Linked DNA regions of Homo sapiens. The protein of the gene in region 2 purifies or fractionates together with the protein of the main gene of each other region. This does not show direct contact. Each region holds a gene or a part of one and is shown on either strand. Other genes may lie near its edges. The genes, in order: P2RY8 and PTPRJ.

The links.
Region 1: the proteins of PTPRJ (region 2) and P2RY8 purify together in Homo sapiens (co-immunoprecipitation; one large-scale study listed by IntAct). This does not show direct contact.

The regions. Positions count from the first base shown.
Region 1 is NC_000023.11:1,530,623-1,534,460, forward strand, and holds part of P2RY8 (S-geranylgeranyl-glutathione receptor P2RY8), read right to left. Parts: intron 1-3,838. UniProt on the Homo sapiens protein: G protein-coupled receptor for S-geranylgeranyl-glutathione (GGG), an endogenous metabolite present in lymphoid tissues.
Region 2 is NC_000011.10:47,986,945-47,990,782, reverse strand, and holds part of PTPRJ (receptor-type tyrosine-protein phosphatase eta isoform 1 precursor), read right to left. Parts: intron 1-3,838. UniProt on the Homo sapiens protein: Tyrosine phosphatase which dephosphorylates or contributes to the dephosphorylation of CTNND1, FLT3, PDGFRB, MET, KDR, LYN, SRC, MAPK1, MAPK3, EGFR, TJP1, OCLN, PIK3R1 and PIK3R2. Plays a role in cell adhesion, migration, proliferation and differentiation.

The DNA.
Region 1 (3,838 bases), on a different chromosome or scaffold from region 2:
TATCTATCCTATCTATCTATCTCTCATCTATCTATGTATCTCTCTAATCTATCATCTATTTAATCTATGCATCTATATATCTATCTATCTAATCTATTTATCCATGTATGTATGTATCTATCTAATCTATGTATGTATATATCTATCTAATTTACGTATGTATCTTTTCTATCTATCTCTATTATCTATATATCTATCTGTCTATCATCACCATTATCTATCTATATCTATGTATGTATTGTCTATTCTATCTCTCATCTATCTATATATCTCTTTAATCTATCATCTATCTATCTAATCTATGCATGTATCTATGTATCTATCTATCTAATCTATTTATCCATGTATGTATGTATGTATGTACCTATCTAATTTATGTATGTATGTATATATCTATCTATTCTATGTATCTATTTATCGATTCTATCTATCTGTCTGTCTGTCTGTCTATCTATCTATCTATCTATCTATCTATCTAATTTGTCACCCATCTATCTTTAAGACAGTGATAGATGAGCAAGTGATTTTGCTACCTGGAGACATTGAGTAATATCTGGAGACATTTCTGATTGTCACAACTGTGGGTGCTCCTGGCACCTTGTGGCTGGAGCCCAGGGACGCTGCTCTACACCCTACAATCCCCAGGATGGCCCCACCACAGGGAATTCCCCCGCCCCAAATGTCACTAGTGCTCCAGCAGACAGCCTGTGCCTTTTGTGTCTCATGAATGGTTCTATCCCAAGATCTGTCCTTGCCCCATCTTCCTGCATGCCCTCTCCATCAGGGGTCCCCCTGCTTACAGGGTCCCCCGTAAACAATGTCCAGGCCCCCTCCCAGCCTGACTGTGCCCAGCCCGAGGGGTTAGCATGCTCAGCCCACCCCCAGCTCATGAACTCCTGGGGAGCCTGGACAGCACATTGCCATTCCACCAACTCATCATCCGAAACCAACACAGCCTGGCACCTGCCACCTGCTTCTGTCTGTGCCACTCCCTGCCCAGCCATGGAGAGTCTCATAGGACTCCTCCCTCCCATGGAGACCTTCTTGGCTAGAAAATCACACATCCTGCTTCCACAAAGTCCCTCTGCTCAGGGCACCAGCACCTTTCCCCTGGAGCAGGGCACTCTGCACAAAAGCATCAACGCAGTCCTCAAGGTCCCAGCCCGGCTCAGCGGCATGAAAACACGCTCAACATCACGAATGATCAGGGAAATGCAAATCAAAAGCAGAATGTGACATCACCTCACTCCTGCAAGAATGGCCACAATCAAAACATCAAGAAATAGCAAATGCTAGTGTGGATGTGGCGAACAGGGAACACGTCTGCACTGCTGGTGGGAACGTAAACTAGTACAGCCACTATAGAAGACAGTGTGGAGAGTCCTTAAAGAGCTAAATGTAGAACTACCATTTGATCCAGCAATCCCACTGCTGGGTATCTAGGTAGAGGAAAGTAACTCATTATATGAAAAAGATACTTAGAGGAAAGTAACTCATTATACGAAAAAGATACTTGCACAGGCATGTTTATAGCAGCACAATTTGCAATTGCAAAAATGTGGAACCAACCCAAATGCCCATCAATCAACAGGTGGATAAAGAAACTGTGGTGTATTTATATATATAAATGCCGGCACTGACACACACACAAACACACACACATATATGTCATATATATGTGTGCCATATATATACACACACGTATATATACACATATATGTATATGATGTGTATATATACACATATACGTATATGATGTGTGTATATGCACATATATGTATATATGTATATGATGTGTATATATACACATATATGTATATATGTATATGTGTATATATACACATATATGTATAGATGTATATGTGTATATATACACATATATGTATAGATGTATATGATGTGTATATATATATACATATACTTATGATGGAATACTACTCAGTCATGAAAAAGAATAGCATTTGGAGTGGCCTGGATGAGATTGGAGACTATTATTCTAAGTGAAGTAACTCAGGAATGGAAACCCAAACATCGTATGTTCTCACTCATAAGTGAGAGCTAAGCTATGAGGATGCAAAGGCATAAGAATGCCACAACGGCCGGATGCGGTGGCTCACACCTGTCATCCCAGCACTTTGGGAGGTCGAGGTGGGCAGATCACAAGGTCAGGAGTTTGAGACCAGCCTGGCCAATATGGTGAAACCCCGTCTCTACTAAAAATACAAAAATTAACCGGGTGTGGTGGCACATGCGTGTAATCCCAGTTACTCAGGAGGAGGCTGAGGCAGGAGAATCGCTTGAATCCGGGAGAAGGAGGTTGCAGTGAGCCGAGATCGCGCCACTGCTCTCCAGCCTGGGCAACAGAGTGAAACTCTGTCTCAAAAAAAAAAAAAAAAAAAAAAACGAAAGAAAGAAAAAAGAAAAAAAAAGGAATGACACAAAGGACTTTGGGAACTCCAGGGCAAAGATTGGGGAGAGGATGAGGGATAAAAGGCCACAAACCGGGTTCAGTGTATACTGCTTGGGTGACGGATACCCTGAAATCTCACACATCACCACTAAAGAACTTCCTCGTGTAACCAAATGGCACGTGTTTCCCCAAAACCTATGGAAGTAAAAAGTGTAAAACAAACCAACAAAAACACACATCAGCTTCTGAAAAAATCTTCTGAGGAGTGTGCTTTCTTGAGGCAAATAAAAGAGATTGCCAAAAATAATATATATATATTCATATATTACATATTTACATATTTATTATTTAAACATATATTTATGTATTTTTTATTATTTATATATTATATATTTATATATTTATTATTTAAATATATTGTATATTTATATATTATTTATTCTTTATATCTTATATACTTATATATTTATTATTTAAATGTATTGTATATTTATATTTTATTTATTATTTATATATTATATACTTATATATTTATTATTTAAATATATTATATACTTATATATTTATTATTTAAATATATTATATATTTATATATTATTATTTACATATTTATTATTTACATATTTATTATTTAAATATATTTTATATTTATATATTATTTATATATTATATACTTATATATTCATTATTTAAATATATTATTCATATATTATTTATTATTTATATATTATATACTTATATATTTATTATTTAAATATACTATATATTCATATATTATTTATTATTTATATATTATATACTTATATTTATTTAAATATATTATGTATTTATATATTATTTATTATTTATATATTATATACTTATATATGTATTATTTAAATATATTATATATTCATATATTATTTATTATTTACATATTACATAGTTATATATTTATAACTTAAATATATTATATATTTATATATTATTTATATATTACATATTTACATATATTATATACTTATCTATTTATTATTTACATATATATTTGTATATTATTTATATATAATATATTTACATATATATTTATATATAATATATTTACATATATTATATATTTATATATATTTACATATATATTTATATACAATATATTTACATATATTATATATTTATATATATTTACATATATATTTATATACTTACTATTTATATATTATATATTATTTATATATAATTATTTATATAATTATATATGTAATACATATATATATACACACACACAGATAGGTGTATCTGTTGCTTTATCCTAAGTGAACACAGATACTGCATCACTAGGGAGCGACATTGTGAACCGCAGAACACTCCCTGCAGTCCCCTGAGCTCAGTCTGGTCCTTGGGGGTGATCCTGGGGGCACCCATCACGCCCACGCCCTTTCCGTACCTTAA
Region 2 (3,838 bases):
ACCCGGGAGGTGGAGCTTGCAGTGAGCCAAGATTGCGCCACTGAACTCCAGCCTGGGTGACTGGGTGAGACTCCGTCTCCAAAAAAAAAAAAAAAAAAATCCCAACACTTTGGGAGGCCAAGGCAGGCAGATCACTTGAGGTCAGCAGTTCCAGACCAGCCTGGCCAACATGATGAAACCCTGTCACTACTAAAACTACAAAAATTAGCCAGGCATGGTGGCGCATGCTTGTAATCCCAGGCTGAGGCAGAAGAATCACTTGAACCTCAGAGGCAAAGGTTGCAGTGAACCAGGATCACACCACTGCAATCCAGCCTGGGTGACAGAGCAAGACTCCCCCTCAAAAAAAAGAAAAAAAGAGGTTTCATGACATAATTTTGACAATTCATAATTATTGATAATTACAATATTATGGTCTTTGCCCTAACTCTTCAGTAAATGGAATACCTCTCTCTTCTGATACACAAGTATCTATATTCACCTTTTTTTGTCACTTTAAAGGTAACATTATATATACATTGTTCTCTACATAGCCTTTTAATTTATTTAGATATCTTGGAGAGTATTTACCGCCTGCACCTATAGCTGTAACTCATTCTTATAAATGACTGGCTAGTTTTTTGTTTGTTTGTTTTTTGAGATGGAATCTCAGTCTGTCGCCCAGGCTGGAGTGCAGTGGCACAATCAGAAATACTCTTCTGATGTAACTCTTCAGTAAATGGAATACCTCGTGGTATTTTATAAAATGCTGTGTTTATGTTTCCATAGCCATTTACAAGGAATTTTAGCATAATATGATCACACTTAGCTTCTCCAACTACCCTGTGTCAGAGGTACTCCTATTATTAGCATTTTTGGAATATGAAGAGCAAGGATCAGAAAGGTCAAGATACCTGCCCAAGATCACACAGCTAATGAGGTGGTAGAGCCAAGACTCCAACAAAGGAGTCTTGTTCCAAATTCTATGCTCTCTTCACCACCCTAGGGTCTTATTTATCTCTGAGTTCCTAAGGAACAAGTGCTACATCTAAAATAATTGGCATGGGGGAGGGGGAATGTGTTTGCAATACAAATGACAATCGAAGGACTAATTTCCAAAGAGCTTATACAAATTGATAACAAAGATTATATCTATATCTATCTATCTATAGATATAGATTTTTTTTTTTTAATGAACAGGGAGTTAACCAAAAAACAAAAAATGGGGCCTGGCACAGTGGCTCACGCCTGTAATCTCAGCACTTTGGGAGGCCGAGGCAGGTGGGTCACCTGAGATCAGGAGTTCAAGACCAGCCTGGCCAACATGGTTCCTAAGGAACAAGTCCCATCTCTACTAAAAATACAAAAAATTAGCTGGGCGTGGTGGCACACGCCTGTAATCCCAGCTACTCAGAAAGCTGAGGCAGGAGAATCACTTGAACCTGGGAGGTGGAGGTTGCAGTGAGCCAAGATCACGCCATTGCACTCCAGCCTGAACAACAAGAGCAAAACTCTGTCTCAAAAAAAAAAAGAAAACAAAAAAAGAAGAAGAAGCAGAGGCAAATGACCAAAAAACTCAACTAACTCAAAATTAAAGATATAAATAAAAATAACAAGATACGGCCAGGCGCGGTGGCTCACACCTGTAATCCCAGCACTTTGGGAGGCCGAGGCGGGCGGATCACAAGGTCAGGAGATCGAGACCATCCTGGCTAACACGGTGAAACCTCGTCTCTACTAAAAATACAAAAAATTAGCTGGGCTTGGTGGCGGGCGCCTGTAGTCCCAGCTACTCGGGAGGCTGAGGCAGGAGAATGGCATGAACCTGGGAGGCGGAGCTTGCAGTGAGCCCAGCGCCACTGCACTCCAGCCTGGGCAACAGAGCAAGACTCCGTCTCAAAAAAAAAAAAAAAAAAAAAAAAAACAAGATACAATTTTTCACCTTTCAGACTAGCAAACATGTAAAAATTTTCATTTCAGATGAGACGGTATGGAGAAACAGACACTCTCCAAACCTATGGATACAGGTACAAACTGAGGGGACACTTTTGGAGGACAACCTGACAACAGCAATCACACTTTTAAATGCATGCATCTTCCAATCCAGTAATCCTGAAACTAGAAATTTACTCTACAGATAAACTTGTGAAGGTTACAAGAAATATCCACCAGAAACATTACAAAGTATGATTTGTGACGGGACAGGGAGGTGTACTAAAACAACTAAAGTGTCCATTGATAGGAGAATGGTCAAATAAATTGTAGTAAATCCACACATCAAAACACTAGTCATGGTCAGGCATGGTGGCTCACACCTGTAATCCCAGCACTGTGGGAGGCCGAGGTGGGTGGATCACCTGAGGTCAGGAGGCAGAGGCTGCAGTGAGCCGAGATCCAAGATCATGCCACTGCACTCCACGCTGGGGTACAAACTGAGACCGTGTCTCAAAAAAAAAACAATAAAATTAAAAATTTTAAAAAAACCTTCTGAAATTGGATACAATATTGTAAATATGTGCATTCCCTTTTGGGGAAGGATTCTTCCCTTTTACATACTCTCTATACTCTCTAGGGGTCTTGTATCTCTTCTTTTCCCCCCCAAGAAAGATTCAGAACCACTGTGTTATAGGCTCCATGTTGATATGAAGTTTTAATACTCACTCACTCATTCACTCAGAAACCATGAGATAACACTGGGCTACGCCCTGGCACAGGCTCCCAGAAAAATATCACCCAACTCCTGCCCTGGAGACGCAAATCGTTTGTAACACAATAACGACATTGTCCGCCCAAGTTTCAGAAATGGCAACAGGGGACAACTTCCCTCTAACAGGAAGAAGGAAAAGTGGAACTGAAAATTATTTGCATGTTTAAAATTAGACCTTCTGTGGGAGCTGACACTGCCTCGTTTTCAAAATGCCCCCCATCTGCTTACCACCACCCCTTATCCTACCATTTACATGCCAGGGAAATTCTGAGACAATAGGATGACTGCAGCTGTCACTAATAAGGAAGTAATAACAAACTTCCTACAGCCCCTGTCCTCCGAGGGGGCACCAGTAAAGCCACTGGAAAACCAGCCATACAAGGTGGTAAAAAAACTGCTCTGGGCTTCTCTGGTCTAAGATATTCACCACTTTCAGGGATCTCCACTTAGGGACTGGCTGTCCCTCATTATCACCATTCCTTCTCTGGCAAGTGGCAGCCCTTTCTCTGAAGCGGGCAGCAGGGATGTCATTCACAGTCACATCCTACATCACAACTGTGACTGGTTGGTTGGTGCTATCTGAGTCTTGCCCAGTGGCCAGTAAGAGCCATGAAGACAGGCTCCTGTTCCCCACCACGGCCTCTGCTCAGTGCCTGTCCCCCAGACTTAAGAAACTGATCATCTTTACAATTTGGTCATAACCACATCATACTCACATAATTATTTACCCAATGTTTTTCTTTAGACCAACTTTTTATGATATTTAAACAAATTTATTTATCATGATACCACTTTTCACCTCATTCGACCTATAAAATCATGGACTTTTGGGGGTCTTTCTTTACTAAGACCCCCTAAAATAAATTATTTTTTATTTTTTTTCTTTTTGAGACAGGGTCTCACTCTGTTGCCTGGGTTGGAGTGCAGTGGCGCTATCAAGGTTCACCGCAGCTTCAACCTCCCAGGGCTCAAGCCATCCTCCCAACTCAGCCTCTCAAGTAGGTGGGACCACAGGTCCACACCACCATGCCCAGCTAATTTTTTGTATAGACAAGGTCTCACTTTGTCATCCAGGCTGGTCTCAAACTCCTGGGCTCACCTGATCCTCCCACCTCTGCCTTCCAAAGTGCTGAGATTAAAGGAATGAGTCAC